7 linked regions of the Homo sapiens genome follow. The protein of the gene in region 5 purifies or fractionates together with the protein of the main gene of each other region. This does not show direct contact. Each region holds a gene or a part of one and is shown on either strand. Other genes may lie near its edges.

Region 1 (3,500 bases), on a different chromosome or scaffold from region 5:
GCAAGACTTTCTTTTTTTTGCATAAACAAGATTATTCTAAAATTTGTATTGAAAGGTAAAGATAATAGAATAGCTAAAACACTTTGAAAAATAAGAATAAAGTAGAGGAATCAGGCTACCAGATTTCAAGACTTACAATATAGCTAGAGTTGGCAAGATTCTATGGTATTTGCAGAGGGACAGACACATGGAAAAATGGACCAAAACAGAGACAACAGAAACAGACCCACACAAATACGTCCAACTGATTTTTGACAAAGACGGAAAAGCAATTCAATGGAAGTAGGATGGCTTTGTCAACAACAATGACAACAACAAAAGAACCTCAATCTAAGTCTCACATCTTACATGAAAATTAACTCACAGTGGATCACGGACTTAAAGGAAAAACATAAACCTGTAAAATGTGTAGAAAAAAAAAAACCAGGAAAGCCGGCGCAGTGGCTCACGCCTGTAATCCCAGCACTTTGGGAGGCCAAGGTGGGCGGATCACGAGGTCAAGAGATTGAGACCATCCTGGCCAACATGGTGAAACCCTGTCTCTACTAAAAATACAAAAATGAGCTGGGCATGGTGGCGCACACCTGTAGTCCCAGCTACTCAGGAGGCTGAGGCAGGAGAATCGCTTGAACCTGGGAGGCAGAGGTTGCAGTGAGCCAAGACTGTGCCACCGCACTCCAGCCTGGGTGACAGAGTGAGAATCTGTCTAAAAACAACAACAACAACAACAACAACAACAAAGAGAATCACTTGAACCTGGGGAGCCGAGATCATGCCATTGCACTCCAGCCTGGGTAACAAGAGCAAAACTCCATCTCAAAAAAAAAAAACCTATATATAAAATACTCAAATTCTTGAAGACATTTGACCAAAGAGGATATACAGATGGCAAATAATCATATGAAAAGATGTTCAACATCATTAGCCATAAGGGAAATGTAAATGAGAACTAACGGGTGAATGGTTAAATAAACAGACTGTGTGGTACATCCATACCATGAAATACTACTTAGCAATAAAAAACAATAACTATTGATGCATGAAATGAGGATGAATCTCCAGAGAATTATGCTGAATAAAAAAAAGTTCAAAATCTTAAGTACTGCATGAATCCATTTAAATAACACACATGAAATATCAGAGAACAGATTAGTAGTTGTCACAGATTAAGGATGTGGTAGGGGTGGGATGGTAGTGAATACGATTATAAAAGGGCAACATAAAAAATCCTATCATGATGGAAATGCTCTGTATCTTGACTGTATCATTGTCAATATACTGTTGTGATACTGTACTATAATTTTGCAAGATGTTACCATTAAGGAAAACTGGATAATGGCTACATAAATCTTTGTTTACTATTTCTTACAACTAGATGTGCATGTAGAATTACCTCAAAATGAAATGTTTAATTTTTTTAAAAAGCCCAGGCTTTAGGACAAAGCTAGATGACTTTGGGTAAGTTGCTTCCCTTATTATAGGGCTAAATTACTACATTAAAAGATCAATGGTCTAAGCATAGTGCCTGGTACAAAGTAAGTGCTCAACAGATGGCTACTAAAATAATCCTAAAAGTCATGGCAGTGGGGATGAAGAAGCGTATAACAAGATATTTAGATGATACCACTAATGGGTTTTGGTGACAGATTAGATGTGGGATAGTGGGTGACGGGGAGTCAAAGATGATGCCCAAGTTTCTCATCTGAGCAAGTAGGTGCTTAGTGGCACTGTTTACTGAGCAGATGTGGAGTGAAGAGATGAACAAAGAAGAGTTTAGTTTTGGAAGTGGTGAGTTTGTGTTGACTGGGAAACATTCAAATAGAGATGCCCAGTTAACAGTTGGATATGTAAGTCTGAAGTTCAGAACACAACTCTGAGATGGAAATTTAACTTGATGACCACCATGCAAATGATAACTGAAGCCAGTAGAATGGACAAGGTTGCCAAAGGGGAGAAACCACACAGCCACTATGACTATAAAGGAGCTTCAACCTTTAAGGACTGGATAAAAGGGTCAGTCTAGCAAAGGAAATATAGAGTAGCCAGAAAAGGAGAAATAACAGGCATTTATAGTGTCAGCCAAGATAAGAGGAAGGTGTTTTAAAAAAGAGTGGTCAACTATGACCAAGCAGTGAAGAGATTAATTAAAATGAGGAGTAAAAAATCATCCTCTGAGTTTAGTGACCTGGGTATCGCTGGTGCCTTTGTCAGAATAGCTTTGGTGAATAACAAAGTAGGTTTCCACTGGAGCCGACTGAGAAGAAGGTGGGAGAAAGGAAGACTGCATAAACCACCACCAAGTTTATCCCTGAAAAAAAGTAGGTAGTACAGAGAGGGAAAGAAGTTGAAGATGTGTTACAGGATAAGAATTATTTGAGTAGGGAGGAGAAGATATGATTCAAAGTATAAGTAGCAGGATTAGCTCAGATAGAAGTGGCACTTCATCTACTCTAAGAAAAGGAAACAAGAAAGGAACCATGCAGGCTGGGCGCGGTGGCTCATGTCTGTCTGTAATCCCAGCACTGTGGGAGGCCGAGGCGGGTGGATCACCTGAGGTCAGGAGTTCAAGACCAGCCTCACCAACGTGGTCAAGCCTCATCTCTACTAAAAATACAAAATTAGCCAGGTGTGGTGATGCATGCCTGTAATCCCAGCTACTTGGGAGGCTGAGGCAGGAGAATCGCTTGAACCCAGGAGGCAAAGGTTGCAGTGAGCCCAGATCGTGCATTGCACTCCAGCCTAGGCAACAAAAGTGAAACTCTGTCTCAAAAAAAAAAAAAAAAAAAAGGAAGAAAGAAAGGAACTATGCAGATACAAGTAAATTTGAAAATGTGGCCATTCATCGTACGTACAGACAACTACTCCCTCATCATTTCAATTTTCCTTTGAAGGAGAAGGCAAAGCCATTGCTAAGACTGAAAGACTGGATTAATTTTTTTTTCTGTTTACTGGATTTTTATTCCAAGCACCTGATCCAGTGCCTGGGACATAGATTTAATAAGTATATTTAATAAATATAATGGAAATAAACAATTACTGTTACCTTAATGCAGTAGTTCTTTACAATTTGTGCACAACTTTCTTCAAGTTAGCCACTAGGGGGTAGTCTGCCAATCTTATTCCCTCAATCTTTTAATCCAGTGAAATTGATAGAAAACTACAATGCAGTGTAGGTCATATTAATAAAATGTTTTTCCTCAAGAAAATTCTGTTTAATAATTATATACATGTACGTGTGTATGCATTTGCATGCACGCGCATACACACACAAATACACTGAGGCACGATGGGAGGGTTGTTACTTCTGCCGGCCTCCCACTGCAGCCATATCAGGATGCCCCAGAGGCAATAGTCAGCATTTTCCAGAGACACTTTTTGCAATTTCTCCAGGGCACTCAGTAAATAGCAGATAGGTCTCTTATACTTATACTTAATTAACTAGAAAAGGCTGATGAAAAAAATCCCTGAAAACTAATTGCTCAAACATTTGCCTTTGCTTC
Region 2 (3,500 bases), on a different chromosome or scaffold from region 5:
AAAGTACTTCTTTAATTATAAAATATGTGTGCTTTTAAAAAGTTGAAAGATATAAAAAAGAACATAAAAATCATTCCATCAAAATCCTACAGCCCAGTGGGTGACAGAAGCTATTATCATTTTGATCTATTTCCTTCCGACACATGTACACAGAGATTGAGATGATAGAATGTATGTTGTATTTTTCCCCACTTAAGCTAATTATGAACATTTTCCCAAGCATGACTATTTTGATTTAGACAACTGATCATATTATTTATGAAATATGAACTTATTTTCCAAATCCAAAACACTAGATTCTTCATTCTTTTTAAAAAATATAGTCCCCTCCCTCTCCCCTTCCCCCTCCCCCTCCCCCTCTCCCTCTCCCCACGGTCTCCCTCTCCCTCTCTTTCCACGCTCTCCCTCTGATGCCGAGCCGAAGCTGGACGCTGCCATCTCGACTCACTGCAACCTCCCTGCCTGATTCTCCTGCCTCAGCCTGCTGAGTGCCTGCGATTGCAAGCGCGCACCGCCACGCCTGACTGGTTTTCGTATTTTTTTGGTGGAGACGGGGTTTCGCTGTGTTGGCGGGGCTGGTCTCCAGCTCCTGACCACGAGTAATCCGCCAGCCTCGGCCTCCCGAGGTGCCGGGATTGCAAACGGAGTCTCGTTCACTCAGTGCTCAATGTTGCCCGGGCTGGAGTGCAGTGGTGTGATCTCGGCTAGCTACAACCTCCACCTCCCAGCCGCCTGCCTTGGCCTCCCAAAGTGCCCAGATTGCAGCCTCTGCCCGGCCACCACCCTGTCTGGGAGGTGAGGGGCATCTCTGCCTGGCCGCCCATCGTCTGGGATGTGAGGAGCCCCTCTGCCCGGCTGCCCAGTCTGGGAAGTGAGGAGCGCCTCTTCCCGGCCGCCATCCCGTCTAGGAAGTGAGGAGCGTCTCTGCCCGGCCGCCCATCGTCTGAGATGTGGGGAGCGCCTCTGCTCCGCCGCCCCGTCTGGGATGTGAGGAGCGCCTCTGCCCGGCCGGGACCCCGTCTGGGAGGTTAGGAGCGTCTCTGCCTGGCCGACCCGTCTGAGAAGTGAGGAGCCCCTCTGCCCGGCAGCCGCCCCGTCTGAGAAGTGAGGAGCCCCTCCACCCGGCAGCCGCCCCGTCTGAGAAGTGAGGAGCCCCTCCGCCCGGCAGCCGCCCCGTCTGAGAAGTGAGGAGCCCCTCCGCCCGGCAGCCACCCCGTCTGGGAAGTGAGGAGCGTCTCTGCCCGGCAGCCACCCCGTCCGGGAGGGAGGTGGGGGCTCAGCCCCCGCCCGGCCAGCCGCCCCGTCCGGGAGGGAGGTGGGGGGTCAGCCCCCACCCGGCCAGCCGCCCCGTCCGGGAGGGAGGTGGGGGGGCAGCCCCCGCCCGGCCAGCAGCCCCATCCGGGAGGGAGGTGGGGGGTCAGCCTCCACCCGGCCACCACCCCATCCGGGAGGTGGGGGGCGCCTCTGCCCTGCCGCCCCTTCTGGGAATTGAGGAGCCCCTCTGCCCGGCCACCATCCTGTCTGGGAGGTGTACCCAACAGCTCATTGAGAACGGGCCATGATGACGATGGCGGTTTTGTGGAATAGAAAAGGGGAAAAGGTGGGGAAAGGATAGAGAAATCAGATTGTTGCTGTGTCTGTGTAGAAGGAAGTAGACATGGGAGACTTCATTTTGCTGTGTACTAAGAAAAATTCTTCTGCCTTGGGATGTTGTTGATCTATGACCTTACCCCCAACCCTGTGCTCTCTGAAACATGTGCTGTGTCCACTCAGGGTTAAATGGATTAAGGGCGGTGCAAGATGTGCTTTGTTGAACAGATGCTTGAAGGCAGCATGCTCGTTAAGAGTCATCACCGCTCCCTAATCTCAAGTACCCAGGGACACAAACACTGCGGAAGGCCGCAGGGTCCTCTCCCTAGGAAAACCAGAGACCTTTGTTCACTTGTTTAACTGCTGACCTTCCCTCCACTATTGTCCTATGACCCTGCCAAATCCCCCTCTGCAAGAAACACCCAAAAATGACCAATAAAATTAAAATTAAAAAAAATTAAAAAAATAAAAAATATATAGTCAACAGCCTCTTCAGGAGTATCAAAAGTATGTCTTTGAAATACATTTACCAGTAAGTCTCCAACGAGGATAAGAACTTCACATCCAATCTAAGACAATCAGGCGTTTAGAAAACTACACTAAGAATCCCATAATCTACTTACTCACTGGAAGACCTGCTCAGAACAGAGAGAAAGCTCAAGTGAAAGCAAGTGGAAAGCCTGGGGAGGGCGTACCGGATTCCAGAGAGCCAGCTGCCGCTCGCTCATGCGGCTGAACCCAGTGGTGAAGACATTGCCATCGGCCAGGAAGATGGCTCTCATGGGTCTTGCTCCTTCATGTGCTTTCTCCTTCTCCTGGAGAGCAAAAAGGCACATGCCACACATTAAACTGCAAGAAGACAAGGTGAGTGGAGAAACTCGGGCACAGATCCAACCTCACCAACTGCCATTCATGTTCACCTGGGTGTGGGAGGGAGGTCAGTGTTAACCATCCCCCTTCCCCAGATGAGGAAACAAAGAGATACTATGTGATCTGGTCAAGGTCCCTCTGTGAGGCTGCAAGAATGCCAGGATTTAACTCAGAAGACTCGCTCTCTCCACCATATCCTGCTGCCAACCCAAGTCTATGCACTGTGAAAATAAAACACATGAAAGGACTCTGACAAATGTTTGTTTCTCAAGAGGATAATAACATAAGGAGATTAGGCATGCCCTACCATTTCTACCAATATCATAGGGCAGAAAGAAGCCTTGTCTAGTTAACGCTTTCCTTGACCTCAGTAGTTTAATGAATGCACTAGGACAACCCTTAGAAGATGTCGGGTGGAGAAAACACTTAACACAGGGCTGGGCAAGTCCCCAGGGCTCAGTAAGCACCAGCTACTATCATTGCCCAACTCTTGAAAAGAGATGCAGCCAAAGAACAACCACATCTCAGGAAGGGCCTCAGAGTGTGGCAAATGAGGACTTCTCAGACTTACTATGTGTAGTTTCAACACCGACTGAAGACCCAAATGTCCATCTTTTGTCAAGGTATGTGATTTTGTTGAGGTCCAGTTTGGGTGGCAGAAACTAAGACACTGAGCTGATGAGAGAACTTGTTGCTTTTCGCCCTGCGCATTTATTTATTTATTTATTTATTTATTTTTGTATTTTTAGTAGAGACAGAGTTTCACCATGTTGGCCAGGCTGGTCTCAAACTCCTGACCTCAAATGATCCACCCACCTCGGCCTCCCAAAGTGCTGGGATTACAAGTGTGAGCCACCATGCCCGGCCACCTGTTGCATCTTTAACAGCTGTGTTTGGAAAAGGGTGAGGAATTGATTCATCAATATTCAATACTAAGCTGCAAAATCAGGAATGCAGCCAATTGGTTTAATTGATCAAGACTTATAAACTCTTAAGGACTCTAGTGAACTGATACAAACTATTTCTTTGTGAAAAAAGGC
Region 3 (3,500 bases), on a different chromosome or scaffold from region 5:
CACAGTTAAATCTCAGTTCCTCTGAGAAGACAAATGTGACAGTTTTACTAGATACAAATTCAAATGTCAGACCATCCCTGGCTAATCAGCAAAGGTAAATAAGGGAAAAGCTGACATACATGATCAGGCAGCATATACATCCATAAGCTTCAAGAAGCTGGTAACGGACAGATTCCTAGTAAAAGGCTTGATCTATGTCTCAGTTCAAACTGAGAGAAACAGGTCAGGATGACAATGAAGAAAGGATGACCAGTGGAAGCCAAGATGCTTCCCTAGCATATCACCACAATTCTTCAACTTTCTGGGATGAGGGTATTCTTATCCAACAAGGACATCACCATGACCCTAACACTGGCCAGGTGTGGTGGCTCACACGTGTAATACCAGGTGGGTGGATCACCTGAGGTCAGGAGTTTGACACCAGCCTGGCCAACATGGTGAAACCCCATCTCTACTAAAAAACTGCAGCAATCCACAGGACAGATTATCACAGTTTACATAACTATTCCTCGTTAATGGATATTAGATTGTTTCTTATTTTTTATTACAAAAACAAAGCTTGGATATAGAACTTGGTGCTATGTACAAGTATTTCAGATGGGCAGTTTGCAAATATTTTCTCCCATTCTGAGTTGTCTCTTCACTTTGTTGTTTCCTTTGCTCTGCAAGAGCTTGTTTTCTTTTGGAGACAGAGTCTCGCTCTGTCGCCCAGGCTAGAGTGCAGTGGCACAATCTTGGCTCACTGCAACCTCTGCCTCCTGGGTTCAAGCTATTCTTCTGCCTCAGCCTCCCAAGTAGCTGAGATTACAGGCACCCACCACTACACCTCACTAATTTTTGTATTGTTGGTAGAGATGGGGTTTTGCCATGTTGGCCAGGCTGTTCTTGAACTCCTTACCTCGTGATCTGCTGGCCTTGGCCTCCCAAAGTGCTGGGATTACAGGCGTGAGCCACTGTGCCCAGCCTGCAAGAGCTTTTTAACTTGATGTGATCCCATTTGTCCATTTTTGCTTTGGTTGCCTGTGCTTTTGGAGTATTTACTCAAGCAATCTTTGTCAAGGTCAGGTGCAGTGGCTCACACCTGTAATCCCCACACTTTGGGAGGCTGAGGAGGGCAGATCACTTGAGGCCAGGAGTTCAAGACCAGCCTGTCCAACACAGTGAAACCCTGTCTCTACCAAAAAATAAAAAAATTAGCCAGAGATGGCTAGGCATTGTGGCTCACGCCTGTAATCCCAGCACTTGGGGAGGCCGAGGTGGTCGAATCACTTGAGGCCAGGAGTTTGAGATCCATTTGGCCAACATGGTGAAACCCTGTCTCTATTAAAAATACAAAAAAAATTAGCCAGGCCTGGTGGCACATGCCTGTAATCCCAGCTACTCGGGAGGCTGAGGTAGGAGAATTCCTTCAATCTGGGAGGCAGAGGTTGCAGTGAGCCGGGATCACGCCACTGCACTCCAGCCTGGGTGACAGAGCAAGACTAGAAAGACTAAAAAAGAAAGAAATATACATATATGTATTTGGCTTCAAGTGATCCTCCCACCTTGGCCTCCCAAAGTGTTGGGATTACTGGTGTGAGTCACTGCATCTGGCCTCAAGAAGCCTTTATGGAAATGAATTGAGCTGTGAGGTTGAATGAGTATAACGGATCATCCAGAAGGGAAAATGGCACTAAAACAACAGTTCTGTTAGGTTTTCCTGCCCCTTCTATGCCTGCTGGCTCCTTCCCCGCTCCCTCCTCCCATCACCTTTACATATTTCTAACATGGCTAGGTGCAGTGGCTCACACCTGCGATCCCAGCACCTTGGGAGGCTGAGGTGGGCGGATCACCTGAGGTCAGGAATTGGAGACCAGCCTGGCCAACATGGTGAAACCCCGTCTTTACCAAAAATACAAAAATTAGCCAGCATGGTGGGGCGTGCCTGTAATCCCAGCTACTTGGGAGGCTGAGGCAGGAGAATCGCTTGAACCCAGGAGATGGAGGTTGCAGTGAGCCGAGATCATGCCACTGCATTCCAGTCTGGGTGCAGAGTGAGACCCTGTCTCAAAACAAACAAACAAACAAACAAAATTTGTCCAGACTAATGTCTTGGAGAGTTTCCCCAATGTTTTCTTTTAGTAGTTTCAGGTCTTGGATTTAGATTTAAGTCTTTAATCTATTTTGATTTGATTTTTGTACATGGTGAGAGATAGGAGTCTAGTTTTATTCTTCTGCATATGGATATCTAGTTTTCCCAGCAGCACTTATTGAAGAGATTGTCCTTTTCCCAATGTATGTTCTTGGCACCTCTGTTAAAAATAAATTCTCTGTAGATGTACAAATTTATTTCTGAGTTCTCTATTCTGTTCCATTGGTCTATGTGTCTGTTTTTATGCTAGTTTTGGTTACTATAGCTCTACAGTATAATTTGAAGTCAGGTAATGTGATTCCTCCAGCTTTGTTTTTTGCTCAGGATGGCTTTGGCTATTATGGGTCTTTTGTGGTTCCATATAAATTTCAGGACTGTGTTTTTCTATTTCTGTGAAGAATGTCACTAGTATTCTGATAGGGACTGCACTGGATCTGTAGATTGCTTTGGGCAATAAGGACATTTTGACAATACTGATTTTTCCAATTCATGAGCATGGAATATCTTTCCATTTTTTCATGTCCTCTTCAAATTCTTGCATCAGTGTTTTACAGTTTTCATTGCAGAAATCTTTCACTTCTTTGGTGAAGTTTATTCTTAGGTATTTCATTTGTAGCTATTGTAAATGGGATTACTTTCCTGATTTCTTTTCCAGATCATTCACTGTTGGCATATAGAAATGCTACTGATTTTTGTATATTTATTTTGTATCCTGCAATGTTACTGAAGTTGTTTTTCAGTTATAATAGTTTTTTGGTGGAATCTTTATGTTTTTCCAAGACTCTACGGTTTTAGAATCTCCTGGTAAGACGAAGGAGTACTCATTTACTCACTCCCTCAAAACACTGGATCTTAGCAGTCTTTTTGATTTTTTACAAATCTGATTAGTGATTTTGTATTTCTCTGAGGATGAATATTTTTCATTTGATTACTGGCCTTTTGTATTTTTACCCCTTATAAATTGCCCCAGTTTTTGCCTATTTTTTTTCCCTATAAACAAAAAGATTTGTAGCTCTTTATGTATTCTGGATATGAATCTCTTCCCTCTTCAAAAATATTATTTTTCTTCCACTCTGTGCCTCCCTTTTGCTTTGACATGCAGAAAGCTTTAATTTTTGTGTGATCAAATCTGCTAGTTGTTCTTTTAAAATTTATTATTATTAATATTATTATTATTATTAGATAGGGTCTCCTCTGTCATCCAGGCTGGAGTGCAGTGGCACAATCACAGCTCACTGCAGGCTTAACCTTTTGGACTCAGGTGATCGTCCTACCTCAGCCTCCCAGGTAGCTGGGACCACAGACACACACCACTACGCCCAGCTAATTTTTTGTATTTTTAGTGGAGACAGGGTTTTGCCATGTTACC
Region 4 (3,500 bases), on a different chromosome or scaffold from region 5:
AGTTTGAACTATTTTAAAAGTATTTTCATACGATGAAATCTAAATATCTTCAGCAACTTGAGCAGGAAACACCAGACTCTAAATTAGGTATCAGGTCAGGACTAATAGCAAGCAGAGGAAAACAATCTGAATTCATCAAGTAGTAAGACAAGCTGGATTTTAAACCAGTTCTAACGTATTATGAAATCTGGCAGCAACTTCATAACATTAACTTTATATGTAAATTTCTCTTGAGCCTTTTTCTTCCTTTATTTTAGGACGCTATCAACTAAAATATTCCTGGAAACCACTGACTGTTTTTACATTAAAGATACCAACCACTTACCAGCATGGACTGCAGGATGCAAAGTTTTCACACGTCCCCCCAACATTTCAGGAAATCCCGTCAACTCAGAGACATCTCTGAAAAACAGATAAACAGAATGGTACTACTGGTGTGGCTGAATTGTAATTTTCACTATTCAAAGCATCTACTGTTTTCATTTCAAGAGATTTTGAGCCTGAATTCAACGTGAAAATTCTGATTTTTTAAAGTATTTCACTATATTTTATTTCTTAAGTAAAATTCTATTTACTTCCGAAAAAAAGTTTATTTAATTTATTTCCTAACTGTTGTGTATGTTCAGGGATAATTGGTAACTACTACAGCACTGGTTTTATAATTTTCAGAGCATTTAGAAACTGAATCATAAGCCATACTCATTAAATATTACTAAGACATACAACTGAGAATTTGGCAGTATGTAACAAAAAGCATTAAAAATATCCTTGGCCGGGCACGGTGGCTCATGGCTGTAAACCCAGCACTTTGGAAGGCTGAGGCAGGTGGATCACCTGAGGAGGGGAGTTTGAGACCAGCCTGGCCAACATGATGAAACCCCAGCTCTACTAAAAAAATACAAAAAATTAGCCGAGCGTGATGGCGGGCACCTGTAATCCCAGCTACTGGGGAGGCTGAGGCAGGAGAATCACTTGAACCCAAGAGTTGGAGGTCGCAGTGAGCCGAGATCATGCCACTGCACTCCAGCCTGGGCGACAGAGCAAGACTCCATCTCAAAAAACAACAACAACAACACATGAAGATGGCATATCAAGTGAGTGAAGACATAAAAGACTGTTTAATAAAGTGGTGTTGCTATTGGAATAACGGGTTAAACCCAAACAAAAATATATTCCTTATGAATCAAAGGTTTAGCATTTAAAAAATCATGCATGTAGCAAAATTAAATATGTGAGGAATGCTTTCCAAGTTTTAAACAAAAGATTGAGAGTTCTGATTACAGAAATGTTAAATAAAAAGTTTTACATGGGAAAAAAAAGTAAACTAGAAAAAATAATCACACAATGTGACAAAGGGTCAAGTGAAGGACAGTAAATATTAATCCATATCACAAAGCAGACCCCTAGAAAGTCGTAACCACGAACACTCTGGCAGACTTTATAAGTTGTAATGGTGTGTAAAAATGCCCACAATATATAAGAAAAAATAAAGCAGGGGCCAGGTGGGGTGGCTCACACCTGTAATCCCAGCACTTTGGGAGGCCAAGGCGAATGGATCACCTGAGGTAAGGGAGTTCCAGACCAGCCTGACCAACATGGTGAAACCCCGCCTCTACTAAAAATACAAAATTAGCCAGGCATGGTGGGGCATGCCTATAATCCCAGCTACTTGGGAGGCTGAGGCAGGAGAATCGCTTGAACCCGGGAGGCGGAGGTTGCAGTGAGCCAAGATTGTGCCACTGCATTTCAACCTGGGCAACAACAGCAAAACTCCGTCTCAAAAAATAAATAAATACATAAAAATAAATAAAGCAGGAAGCAAAACTGCATCTATCTTCTGTGTAAGCTATGAAATAAAGTACATGCTTATAAAAATGCTTGAAGAAAAATATACTAGCATGTTAAGAATTACAATCCATTTTTACTACCTTCTTTATAGTTGTCCATATTTTCGAATTTTCTACAATCAACATATATAGTTTTTGAGATGGGATCTCACTATGTTGCCCAGCCTGGAGTACAGTGATTATTCACAGGCAAGATTACAGTCCATGGCAGCCTAGAACTCCTGGGCTTATTAAGTAATCCTCCAAGTAGCTGAGACTATAATAAACACTTTAAAGCAGCAAGTTCTGCCAGTAAGATACGGAATTTCCTGGGTAGATTCTCCTGTTAAGGGGAGCCATTTGCAAATGACTGGTGTTTGACCAATGACACACACAGTTCCAACATCCACAAACTGGTGACATAAGTGTTTTCAAATTCAAAATTTCTTTTCCTGGGGTTCAGGAAATAAAATCCATTTCCTCCAAATGAAGACAGTCACTTAAAACTTAGAGAAGGCGGATTTATTTCTAGAATTAAACATTTGGGGTAATTAAAAAGCTTGCTACTCCTTTGAACTGAAGAATTTATACATAATGGCTGTAGTCTCGGGAAATAATTCTATGTATGCTCACTGCTGTATACTCACTAATTAAAATCCATCAGTTTACCTCATGACAAGGTAATGGTTAACTTCCTGGGATAAAATTATTGCAGATAACAACACCCAAAAATATGCTCAGAAGCAGCCTCAGAACCAAGATCTTTTTTTTTTTTTTTGAGACAGTGTTTCTCTCTGTCATCCAGGCTGGAGTGTAGTGGTGGAATCTCGGCTCACTGCAACCTCCACCTCCTGGGTTCAAGCAATTCTCCTGCCTCAGCCTCCTGAGTAGCTGGGATTACAGGTGCACGCCACCACACCCGGCTGATTCTTTTTTGTATTTTTAGCAGAGATGGAGTTGCACCATGTTGGCCAGGCTGGGCTCAAACTCCTGACCTCAGATGATCCAGCAGCCTCAGCCTCCCAAAGTGCTGGGATTACAGGGGTGAGCCACTGCGCCCAGCCAGAACCAAGACCTTGTCCAGGCATGGTGGATCACACTTGTAATCCCAGCACTTTGGGAGGCCAAGGCAGGCAAAATTGCTTAAGCCCTAGAGTTCAAGACCAGACAGACAACATGGTGAAACCATCTCTATGAAAAATACAAAAATTAGTTGGGCATGCTGGTGTGCAGCTGTAGTCCCAGATACTCAGGAGGCTGAGGTGGAAGGATTGCCTCAGCCTGGGAGATCGAGGCTGCAATTAGCCATGATTGTGCCACTGCACTCCAGCCTGGGTGACAGAGTAAAACCCTCTAAAAAAATATATATATATAGCTTTCTCCTGCCCTCTTGCCTCTCACCCTTCATTCTTCCCTGAAGTCACAGAAATGAGAATTTCTCTTCCCCAGGGCAGTTTACAGAAACTAAAACTCTTTTTCCCCAAAGCCAGTCATAAGATTTAAACTTATGATTCTAACTTTCCACTGGCTTTCTGTCTAGGAGCTGGACGTAAAGAAATCCTCTCATCTCCTTGCCCATTAGTAGGTCAGGAGATCCTTAGGGGGTGGAGAAAGAATTTTAGAGAAGCCAAGAAGAATCTGGACAGACAGGCTTTCCTGGCTTTCTCCACCTCA
Region 5 (3,500 bases):
CACTCTGTTGCCCAGGCTGGAGTGCAATGGCGCAGTCTTGGCTCATTGCAACCTCTGCCTCCCGGGTTCAAGCAATTCTCCTGCCTCAGCCTCCCGAGTAGCTGGTGCTACAGGCGTGTGCCACCACACCCAGCTAATTTTTGTATTTTTAGTAGAGATGGGATTTCACCATGTTGGCCAGGCTGGTCTTGAACTCCTGACCTCATGATCCGCCTGCCTCAGCCTCCCAAAGTGGTGGCATTATAGGCGTGAGCCACCATAGCCGGCCGTTTGTTTTTTTGAGATGGAGTCTTGCTTTGTCACCCGGCTGGAGTGCAGTGGCATGATCTCAGCTCACTGCAACTTCTGCCTCCTGAGTTCAAGCAATTCTCCTGCCTCAACCTCCCTAGTAGATGGGATTACAGGCGCATGCCACCCCACCCAGCTAATTTTTGTATTTTTAGTACAGACAGGGTTTCGTCATGTTGGCCAGGCTTGTCTCGAACTCCTGACCTCAGGTGATCTGCCCGCCTCAGCCTCCTAAAGTGCTGGGATTACAGGCATGAGCCACCACACCCGGCCTGAATGGTGGTTTTATGTAAAGGCTGTTTTAAAATAATAGGTAAATTCCCAGTCTATCTTTAAGAGCCTGATATAACAGTTTCAACCTTTCTAGAAAAACCAGAGTGGTCTTGGTTAACATATGAAGTTTCTGGAATGTTAAACACTGCAGTACATATTTTAAAAAGTCAAGATTCAGGGTACACAAGACCTCTCTGTACCATTTTCTTTAACAACTTTCTCTAAATCTGTAACTGTTTCAAAATAAAAATTATTTTTAAAAGTAAAGACTAGGTACTAAGGAAATTTTCCATTTAAGGTTAACTCCAGAACTATAAATTTACCAACACTTAATAAATATTAAAAACAAACAACAACAACAAAAAACCCGTCCTCACTTTTCTCCCTTGATTTTCAATTCACTCAGTGTTCCAAATATGTGAGCACCTATTAGGCAAAAAGCATGTCAACATAAGCTGTTCCTAGAATATAAACATACTACTTATACTACCTCTTCGCTATAACTGCCCCAACAGAGAATATCATTTTTTTTTCTTATTCTTCTTAAACACACCCCTGGCCAGGTGTGGTGGCTCACACCTGTAATCCCAGCACTTTGGGAGGCCAAAGCGGGTGGATCACCTGAGGTCAGGAGTTTGAGACTAGCCTGACCAACATGGTGAAACCCTGTCTCTACTAAAAATACAAAAATGAGCCGGGCGTGGTAGTGGGTGCCTGTAACCTCAGCTACTCGAGGGGCTGAGGCAGGAGAATTGCTTGAACCCAGGAGGCAGATGTTGCAGTGAGACAAGATCGTGCCACTGCACTCCAGCTTGGACGACAGAGCGAGACTCCATCTCAAAAACTAAAATAAGATAAACACACTCTAAAAGTAGTTTCCCTATTCCCACCAAGTACCATTCCTTTTCTATACCCGAGGCAAATGGCTACTTTAGCTATGATAAAGGAGAAGATGTTCTCCTGTCCAGAATAGTCACAAAAATCTATTTAATCCAGAAAATAGCTGAAACAGCATGGTAGAAATGGAAATAATGCAGAATTATTCAGCTATGTCATGAGTTGAATCGATCTTTAAGGACCATCTGGGACTCTGACATTTCTCTTTGAGAAAACGTGCTCTGAGGCCCCCAAACTCAACTTTTCAAATAATTAATTTTCAAAATAAAAGTTGGAGGTTGCCAATATTTCCCACTATTCACTCCTAACACAAAATTGTTGCTTGGTAAGAGATACCTATACCTGGTGCCTAAATTCTTTTCCCTTTTGAGAGCTTTCACTCCAACGTATGTCAGTAAGTCAAAATGAACATTACAGTGGCAAGTTGATATCCAAAAAGCTGATCCAATTATATCATCTATATCCTTTCCCCTAGTAATCAAGAATTCCCTATTGTGTCCTAAGTCTGATAACAGTAGGCCCTGACTGGGCTGAAATGCAGCTGAGACTCTTCTGTAACTTGTTCTCATTTAACTTCTAAGAAACGACCTAAGATGAGATAATTTAGTAGCAACAAATAAAATTACTTTGTACAACTTCAAATGTAACCAGAAAGGCATGAGATAAGAGTAACAGTAACCTTCAAAAAAGTACATCTAATGTTCTCTTGGATGGTACACCTTTCGCAGTAATGATAAGAGCACAATGAATACATTTTTCAGCAGTTTTAGCCTGGGAAGGATACAACAATGGTATCTACTGCAGCAGGGTAAAGCTTAGCTCCAGGAGAAGTTAAGCCTGGACACATGATATTTGCTCCACTGAGTACAAATTTGATGGCTCCTTTATCAACCTGCTGGTGTGGCAGGATAAAAGGATCTGTAAGAAAAGATATACAATATATTAATAATAAGACTAATGACTCAACAGAAAAAGGCAAAGGATCTGAACAGTATTTCCCCAAATTAATCTGACAGATACAAAAGAAAACTCTGAAACACTATCATTTGTTTACCAAATTGGTAATCTTTTTTGTTTGTTTTTTTGAGACAGGGTCTTGCTCTGCCACCCAGGCTGGAGTACAGTGGAGCAATCAATACCTCACAATAACCTTGAACTCTTGGACTCATGCAATCTTCCCGCCTCAGCATCCCAAGTATTCTCCAAAAACCGTAATTTCAAAACTATGGTTTTTGGAGACTACTTAATATGCCCTGGGAAATTTTTGTGATATAATGTTAAGTGAAAAACGCAGAGTAAAAAAACGATTAAAAAGATCAGTGGTTACCTGGGGTTGGGGAAGTGGGGGGAGGAAGGATGAATAGGTGGAGCACAAAGGATGTTAGGCCAGTAAAACCATTCTGTATGATACTTTAACAGTAGATACTTGACATGTATTTGGGAAAAACCATAAAACTGTAGAATACAAAGAGTAAACCCTAATGTAAACTAAGGACTTGCGTTAATAATAATGTATCAATGCTGGTTCAATTGTTACAAATGTATCATTCCAAAACAAGATGTTATTCATAGGGGAATCTGAACTGGGGAGAGGGAACTCTATTCTTTCTGCTTACTTTTTCTGGAAACCTAAAACTGCTCTAAAAAATAAAAGCCTGTTAATTTAAAAAAAAACTACAAGGGGATGAGGAGAAGTTGGTTAAGGGGTATAAAAATACAGGTCGATAAGTTCTAGTATTCGAGAGTACAATAAGGAAATTATATTTAACAATGATTTACTCTATATTTCAAAATAGCTAGAAGAATTGTAATCTTCTCAACACAAAGATAAACGTTTGAGGTGACAGATACCCTAATTACCCTGATTTGATCATTACACGCTGTATAAAGGTATCAAATATCACATGTACCCCTAAAATATGTACAACTATTATAAATATATATAGGTGGTGGGGGATACAGGCACCACAACAGCAGACAATGTACAGCTATGACGTATCAATTTTTAAAAACTATGTAACAGAGAGCCCAATTTTAAAAAA
Region 6 (4,095 bases), on a different chromosome or scaffold from region 5:
TCAACCCACAAAAATGTTTTCAAACCTCAGTTTTGAGAGGCCTCTCTCAAACTGCGTGTTTTAATGAAAACTCATTTAAAAGCATTGATTGCATCTGACCATCTCATAGTCTTGGTCAGGTATTTTTTGAAGAATTACACATTGCTTGGCATTTGACCAATGCTAAGTGGGCCTACTGACATCACCAGCAATCTAGAAATTAGAATTATTTGATTCCATAGTTATGTTTGTAACTAAGAGATTGTTATTCTTTTATTTCAAAGCTACCCTAATGTCCTGCATGTCTCCAGTTTATCTGATGGAGCTGAACTAATCTGAGTATATTATGAACACAAGCAAGTAAGTTATTTTAAAAAATGAACCTACTTGTACTAAAAATTTACAGGTAGAAGGGTTGTCTACTAACCATATTACCTAGAACAGTGTGGATCTTTAGAAAGTTAAATTAAATGATGGTAAAAAATCACCTCTTACCAGGTGCAGCAAACACAAAATACAGTAAACAAACAAACATATCTTTGTGCTGTAATTTGTTACCAAAATATTCTTTGTGGGATTGTGGGATTTCCACTGCTTTTTTTTCTTCTCTCTCTCTCTCTCTCTCTCTCTGTGTGTGTGTGTGTGTGTGTGTGTGTGTGTGTGTGTGTGTGTGGTATGTTCTCCAGTCTCCAGAGATGTAGATTAGAATTTTAAATTAAAATGTTCAGATAACTAGTTACAATCAAATTTATCCCCAAGAGTGGAAGGAAAGTGCAATGGAGAAATTGTTTTGTAAATTAAAGACATTACTGCACAAGCCTAACATGATGTTACTGGGGATTTTAATGTTTTTACCTGCATTCAGATTAAAAGTCATCAGTTTTCCCTGTCATCAACAATTTATTTATTCATCCATTCTATTTTTATATTTTTATGGATTGATATACCCAACACTATACTAATTAACCCAATTTACAAGATAATCTATAATCTTATTTAGGTTAGAAGGGTTTTTTGGCAAATGTTCACTCTAGAAAACTGAGTTGTAAGAATATGGGTGATCTCAAATTTGTTTCTGTGTGTGTAAAAGGAAAGGCTTCATATCTAAAATGACTTTACCTCAGTATACTAAATTGTTTGAGGGTAATGAATGAGAAGAACACAACTGTAAAAGGGCCAAGGACAGAGGGATGGGCAAATGAAGGAAAGGCAGAGAGGGAGACCAAGAGCTGAGGGGGAAAATTCTGTGGAGGGGTGTGGGAAAGGGGTGGAGCTGGCACCCTTGCCTTAAAAGCTGAGTGATAGCCCAAGGGATACAAAAGACCGCTTGAGCCGGGTAGGGAAAGCAGCCTAAAGCCCGGGACAGGCACACAGGCCCAGGTGTGTAGGCCACAGCAGCTGCAGTCCTGAAAGGCTGCAACGTCCCGACCTCCAGGAGAGACCAGGCCCAGGATGCCTCGCCTGTTTTTTTTCCACCTGCTAGGAGTCTGTTTACTACTGAACCAATTTTCCAGAGCAGTCGCGGACTCATGGATGGAGGAAGTTATTAAATTATGCGGCCGCGAATTAGTTCGCGCGCAGATTGCCATTTGCGGCATGAGCACCTGGAGCAAAAGGTCTCTGAGCCAGGAAGATGCTCCTCAGACACCTAGACCAGTGGCAGGTGAGAGCTCCCGCCCCCTCCCGGCCTTCCCGCGCTTCCCATTGGTTACTCTGGGGCGGCCGCCCAATTGGAACGGCGGCCTGCACGTCCGACTCGAGATCTCATTGGCTGCCACCGCTCAGCCCCTACTCAGCCGTGGCTGGTCCCTAAAGTTTGGGCTTTTCCTTTGCCAGGTGATTTTATTCAAACAGTCTCACTGGGAATCTCACCGGACGGAGGGAAAGCACTGAGAACAGGAAGCTGCTTCACCCGAGAGTTCCTTGGTGCCCTTTCCGTAAGGCAGTCAGAGCGACGGGGTGGAAAGGGAGGGGAAGCCTCAGAGGAGGTGACGCCGCCCGGAGACCCGCAGGAGGCCGGGCGCACTCCTGCACCCCACAGGAAAGCCAGGCGGCCAGACAGCGGGCGTGCTGGTGGGGGCACCTGAACAGGGCTTCTCGGATAGAGAGGAGAGGGGACAAACACTGAGGCGGCGCGCTAGTTATCAAGCCTGTTTGCGCGCCTGTAGGACGGGGCAACACTCTGAGGTCTCTGTGAGGGTCCCGTGATGGGAAGACAGGAAGGGCCTTACACTTAATGACTCTCCTAGTCCAGAAGTTGGGCTGTGGCCTTTGCCATTGGAAACGTTCTTTAAAATAAACAAACAGAAAATCCCAAAGGAAAGAGTCTGACCTCCCGCTTCTTTGATCTGGGTATTGAAGTTCATTTGTGAGGCAGGGGATGGAAGAGAAAGGAAAGGCTTGAATGCCTTTAGGAGAAACTCAAGAGGACCAGAGACAAGGAAAGCAGGCCGTTCAGACCATCATAGCTGAAGACCCTACTGATGCTTTCAAGCATTTGGAAGCTGCAGTGGGTTTGCTTTAAAGGCAAGCTCTTAGAGTTGAGTACAGCTCAATCTGAAATGGCTTTTAAAAATATTTTAGTATTTATAAAGTAGCAGTGGAAACTCATGGAGGTATATACTAGTCTAAGAAGTGTAACGGGTCATATTAAATTCAGAGAAAGTAACCGCAGTTGCAAATACTAAGTGTTTTGTATTAGTATGACATGTAATTTATGATAAACCGCAACTAAATTTTATAGGCTATATGCATATACTATATATAAATGACTCTAACAGAAATACATTTACTTCTCTTTTATGAGATTTAAAGTATGCTTCTAAAGTTATTTACTTTTCTACATTGTTAGAGTTTGATTTATTTAATGGCAGTTTTTACATGACTTTTGTATAACATTAGTACAAAAATACCACAACGTCTAGGAATTTAGTGATAAAAAGTAGAGAAGACCGGATTGCATTGCATTTGCTTTATTATTCCACATTTTCTGACTATAAAAGTAGTAATGCTCATATTAAAGACAAATGTACATTAATGCAGCGTGAAAAATGAGAAGCACTCGTAGATATTAAGGACTTTGAAAAGTATATGTGAATTTTATGAGAAAATGAAATTATATTAAACAAGTAAGTGGAAAGAAATGTTAACATTTGGATAGGTATATGTATATATCTTTTGCATTTTCACTCACCATTATACTTTGAGCAGTTTCTCACATTGTTATTATCCCAAAACACAATTTGAAATTCCTGTGTAGTATTTTTTGTCATAAATCTGCCACATACACTTAAGGATTCTTTGGTGGATATTTAGTTTATTTCTAAATTGTTGCTGAAAATACTTCATTAAGCACATTTGTATATAGATATGGCTACATTTTTATTTCCTTTGAAGAGACATGAGATTACAAAGTATTTTTAAAGAATTTTCTTTATTGATGTGCAGTATAATTTAACTGAAAGTAACCTCAGAAAATATTGCCTGCAGGTGGAGATTAAGACAAATGTTTACCATTACTAGGTAGGAATCGTTTTGGAAGTACATGTCAGTAATTTGTGATTAATTTGAGTTTTCAGACTTCTACTGTTAGGTAGTTGCTATTTGCTTCCACATTATTACATTGTTAGCCATCCATTTCATCCTACAATATGTGCTAAAATCATATTCACTGCATCCCTTTTAAAAATAAGATACCCTTTAAACCAGAAGAGGCCTATTTTAGTGAGATTTACATCCAAAATAATAAGTGAATAAGGGTATTTGTATGAATTCAGACAGAATATTTTCTTTGAGCCTAGGTTCCATAGCTAAAGGTGTTATGGATTATGAAATATTTCAAAACAGGTTTAAAAATATAATTTTAATAAAAGTATAAAATACACAGCCTATGAACAAACCTAATACAAACTATAACTGTTTTGGCTGACTCATTTAACTGGCTTTAAGTATATAGAAAATTACCATCAGCTTCTTTCAGTATTTAATAAGGCCCCAACTACAGAAAGTTTAGGTTGGATCAAAGAGAGGTTTTTATGATGAAATTGAATTAAACTTAGGATGTCTTACTGAGGGGAAATGCCAAAACCTCTCATTTAACCAAAAACGATATAAATT
Region 7 (3,500 bases), on a different chromosome or scaffold from region 5:
ATAAAAGTCTTATTTTCTTAACGTTTACCAAAAGATATTTGGGGAAAGTAGCAACTATATATAATTGTAATCATTTGCTAATTATCCTTAAATCCTTAAGTGGGCCACAGAAAGCTGACAAACATAGGATAGGTCACGTTTTCTTTTTCATGTTTTGGCACAAGTGGAAACAAAGGCACATGCAGAGAACCGAGTTTATCACCTAAGAGTACACTTAGTGCAAATACAAACAATCATGGTGAAGTCTACTTCAGTCAACACTGTCTAATACTCCAAGAAACTACAAGTTTACTAAATCTAGACATGTTTTGTATTCAGAAGTTGTAGGATATCATCGTGGAAATAAAATTTCAGTAAAGGGACCATCAGTTTGACAACCTGTTCGGTGTACTCCACAAAGCCTTCCTTTAACTCCTTAGCATAGCAAACCTGTAACCAAAGTATTGGGAGGAAATAAAGATTCATGTTAGTCTTCAAGCATTAATATTAACAAACAGCAAAATCATAAGGACCACAGGAGGTTGTATTTTGACTAGAACTACATTTAAAGTTGCATGTAGAACTGTCAAATTAGTCTTCCAACTAAAAAGAGTCTTAAAAGAAGGGTCATGAAATGATTGTAGTATTGGTGAGTGACAAAAAGAAAAAAAAAAAGGAAATTATTGTCGTATATATTGTCCCTTCAAAGGCTGGAATCATTCGTATTCCATTCAGCAAGTTTCAGCAATACATCAAACAAAATGTATCACTTAATTGAGGAAAAATCATTCTAAAAGATACAAAAAACCCTGAAACCATCAGTTAATTGAAGCATTTACTTTGTAAATCTGTAGAAAACGCTTCTGTTATTTTGTATTTTTAAAAAATCATGGCTGGGCACGGTGGCTCATGCTTGTAATCCCAGCACTTTGGGAGGCTGAGGCTGGTAGATCACGAGGTCAGGAGTTCGAGACCAGCCTGGCCAACACAGTGAAACCCCGTCTCTACTAAAAATACAAAAATTAGCCAGGCATGGTGGCGGGCACCTGTAATGCCAGGTACTTGGGAGGCTGAGGCAGGAGAATCGCTTGAACCCAGGAGGTGGAGGTGGCAGTGAGCCGGGATGGCACCACTATACTCCAGCCTGGCTGACAGAGTTAGACGGATCACGAGGTCAGGAGTTCAAGACCAGCCTGGCCAACATGGTGAAAACCCGTCTCTACTAAAGATACAAAAAATTAGCCAGGCATGGTGGCGTGCACCTGTAATCCTAGCTACTCGGGAGGTTAAGGCAGGAGAATCACTTGAACCCAGGAGACGGAGGCTGCAGTGAGCTGAGATCAAGCCACTGTACTCCAGCCTGAGCGACAGAGTAAGACTCTGTTTCAAAAAGCAAAACAAACAAACAAACAAACAAAAAAAACCCCAAAAACCCAATTGTTTCATTCTCTTCTACTACATCTAAAGATTAATTCTGTTTAAAGATGTTATTATTTGTATTTGCTTTCCAGTTGAGAGAAAAAACCCACAAAAATCCAAAGTGTTTATAATTTATAGATACTAAGTATTGAAGATGACAATAAGAAATACATTAATTTCTAAAATCTAACTTTAAAAGTAAGTATTGGCCAGGTGCAGTGGCTCATGCCTGTAATCCCAGGTCATGGCAGGCGGATCACCTGAGGTCAGGAGTTGGAAACCAGCCTGGCCAAAATGGTGAAACCTCATCTCTACTAAAAATACAAAAAGTAGCCAGCTGTGGTGGCAGGCGCCTGTAATCCCAGCTACTCGGGAGGCTGAGGCAGGAGAATCAACTGAACGCCAGAGGTGGAGGTTGCAGTGAGTCGAGATCGTGCCACTGCACTCCAGCCTGGGTGAAAAAGAGAGACTCCACCTCAAAAAAAAAAAAAAAAAAGGATTATCCTTCACTTTAAAACGCATGCTCATAAAGAAAACAAAAAGAAAACTAGGAACTAAACATGCATATGCACACCACAAACACCATAAGGGATAATAACCGAACATTTTGATTTTCCTGCCATATCTGTTTTTTTACACAATTGAAATCATACAAGTTTTGTTTCACATTAAATAGCATGAACACACTTCTGTTCATTTGTTTAAAAAACATTCCATGGCCACCTACTATAGACTAAGAACAAAACCAACAAAAATCCTTCCCTCATGTAGCTTATAAACTTTTTGTAATGGCTGTATATTACTCCAAGGCACAGTAATTCATCTTCCCACTAACAGGAATTTGGGCTATTTGTTGTTTTTTGCTATTTAAAACAGCACTGATAATGAAAGGTTTATCCATACGATTTCTTTAAAATGGAAAGAAAACTTTACTTTTTAAGGAACATATTACTGGCTCTCCAAAGTAATTTCTTTAGCAGCTATTAAAAGCACTCATATGAAATGTATATAAGATGTAAAATAAAAGTTTAGTAAAAACAGTGCTCTCTTACCAACATCTGGCAAGCAGTTGATTTTTCTTCTAGTCCTGCAGTTTTAATACCAAAGCTTTGCTGATCTCCAAGGTTCACAAATTCCCAACCATCATCATCACTCATATTCTCCATGTCTTGGGCTATTAACGGAGAAGAAAACAAATGCATATGAAAAATAATAACAAAGAGAGAACTATTATAACCGATAGCTCCTTCTAAAGACACCTACTATCTAAAAGGGCTACTTCGGGCTTAATTGAAGCCGTCTTCATTAAAGGCCCCATAACCACTGGAAGGTATTGCTGAAATTCTTTTCCAAGGATTTTGCACATTCTGGCCCATGCTGAGATCATGTAAGAGATCTGGGGAAAAATTTTAAAATTAAAATAGATTAAAAAACAATGGGTAAACGTGATAAAGAAAGCCATTTCCTTATTTCATAGAAACAATGTTTTATTGATATGTTCACAGTACTTTAAGCAGTAAGAGCATTTCTAAAGGTTATGTACTTAAAAGGTTCAGAATCAATAATGAAATCCCTGTGAACTCACTACACTGGGATATGGACAGCAGGTGAGGCAAAACACAAAGACCAGAACCTTGGGTATTTCTTTCTACTTTCAGTAAGTGATAATGGTTTTCTTTCTTAGCATCTGAATCATCTAAATGAAACTAATCACCTAAACAAAACCAAACACTTCATCAACTCCCAGTTACAAATTTTTTGAAGACAGAAATGTATTTTATCTGACTCTGTATCCCTATTGCCTGCCACTCCATTCATTAAACATTTATTAAAACCCAAGAAACAAAACATCCTTTTCTCTTAGCTGTTATAATTTTCTCATAAGTGGCTGAGTATATTTAAAACACCTCTTCTCCTATTACTGTGTTTACACAGACTTTATCATCTGCAAATTACCTAGAGAATCTGGTTCCATTCACCACCCCTGCAACCTAGAAAGTGATTCTTATCCCCTGATATCTGTCATCCACCTACCTATTTATCTATTGAGCATGCATGGACACATGCCCCACCTCTTAATGATTTTATATGTAAAAGTCCAC

The links.
Region 1: the proteins of MCTS1 (region 5) and GAB2 purify together in Homo sapiens (co-immunoprecipitation; one large-scale study listed by IntAct). This does not show direct contact.
Region 2: the proteins of MCTS1 (region 5) and CORO1C fractionate together in Homo sapiens (co-fractionation; one large-scale study listed by BioGRID). This does not show direct contact.
Region 3: the proteins of MCTS1 (region 5) and PLPBP fractionate together in Homo sapiens (co-fractionation; one large-scale study listed by BioGRID). This does not show direct contact.
Region 4: the proteins of MCTS1 (region 5) and ATIC fractionate together in Homo sapiens (co-fractionation; one large-scale study listed by BioGRID). This does not show direct contact.
Region 6: the proteins of MCTS1 (region 5) and RLN2 purify together in Homo sapiens (affinity purification with mass spectrometry; one large-scale study listed by BioGRID and IntAct). This does not show direct contact.
Region 7: the proteins of MCTS1 (region 5) and IPO5 fractionate together in Homo sapiens (co-fractionation; one large-scale study listed by BioGRID). This does not show direct contact.

The regions. Positions count from the first base shown.
Region 1 is NC_000011.10:78,411,321-78,414,820, forward strand, and holds part of GAB2 (GRB2-associated-binding protein 2), read right to left. Parts: intron 1-3,500. UniProt on the Homo sapiens protein: Adapter protein which acts downstream of several membrane receptors including cytokine, antigen, hormone, cell matrix and growth factor receptors to regulate multiple signaling pathways.
Region 2 is NC_000012.12:108,655,019-108,658,518, forward strand, and holds part of CORO1C (coronin-1C), read right to left. Parts: intron 2,406-3,500; coding exon 2,286-2,405; intron 1-2,285. UniProt on the Homo sapiens protein: Plays a role in directed cell migration by regulating the activation and subcellular location of RAC1. Increases the presence of activated RAC1 at the leading edge of migrating cells.
Region 3 is NC_000008.11:37,769,145-37,772,644, reverse strand, and holds part of PLPBP (pyridoxal phosphate homeostasis protein), read right to left. Parts: intron 1-3,500. UniProt on the Homo sapiens protein: Pyridoxal 5'-phosphate (PLP)-binding protein, which may be involved in intracellular homeostatic regulation of pyridoxal 5'-phosphate (PLP), the active form of vitamin B6.
Region 4 is NC_000002.12:215,315,059-215,318,558, reverse strand, and holds part of ATIC (bifunctional purine biosynthesis protein ATIC), read right to left. Parts: intron 403-3,500; coding exon 326-402; intron 1-325. UniProt on the Homo sapiens protein: Bifunctional enzyme that catalyzes the last two steps of purine biosynthesis.
Region 5 is NC_000023.11:120,607,101-120,610,600, reverse strand, and holds part of MCTS1 (malignant T-cell-amplified sequence 1), read right to left. Parts: intron 2,377-3,500; coding exon 2,243-2,376; intron 1-2,242. UniProt on the Homo sapiens protein: Translation regulator forming a complex with DENR to promote translation reinitiation.
Region 6 is NC_000009.12:5,301,917-5,306,011, reverse strand, and holds the start of RLN2 (prorelaxin H2 isoform 1 preproprotein), read left to right. Parts: upstream 1-1,295; 5' UTR 1,296-1,431; coding exon 1,432-1,642; intron 1,643-1,746; exon of another isoform or gene 1,747-1,815; coding exon of another isoform or gene 1,816-1,916; intron 1,917-4,095.
Region 7 is NC_000013.11:98,009,175-98,012,674, reverse strand, and holds part of IPO5 (importin-5), read right to left. Parts: intron 2,795-3,500; coding exon 2,662-2,794; intron 2,573-2,661; coding exon 2,451-2,572; intron 430-2,450; coding exon 333-429; intron 1-332. UniProt on the Homo sapiens protein: Functions in nuclear protein import as nuclear transport receptor. Serves as receptor for nuclear localization signals (NLS) in cargo substrates.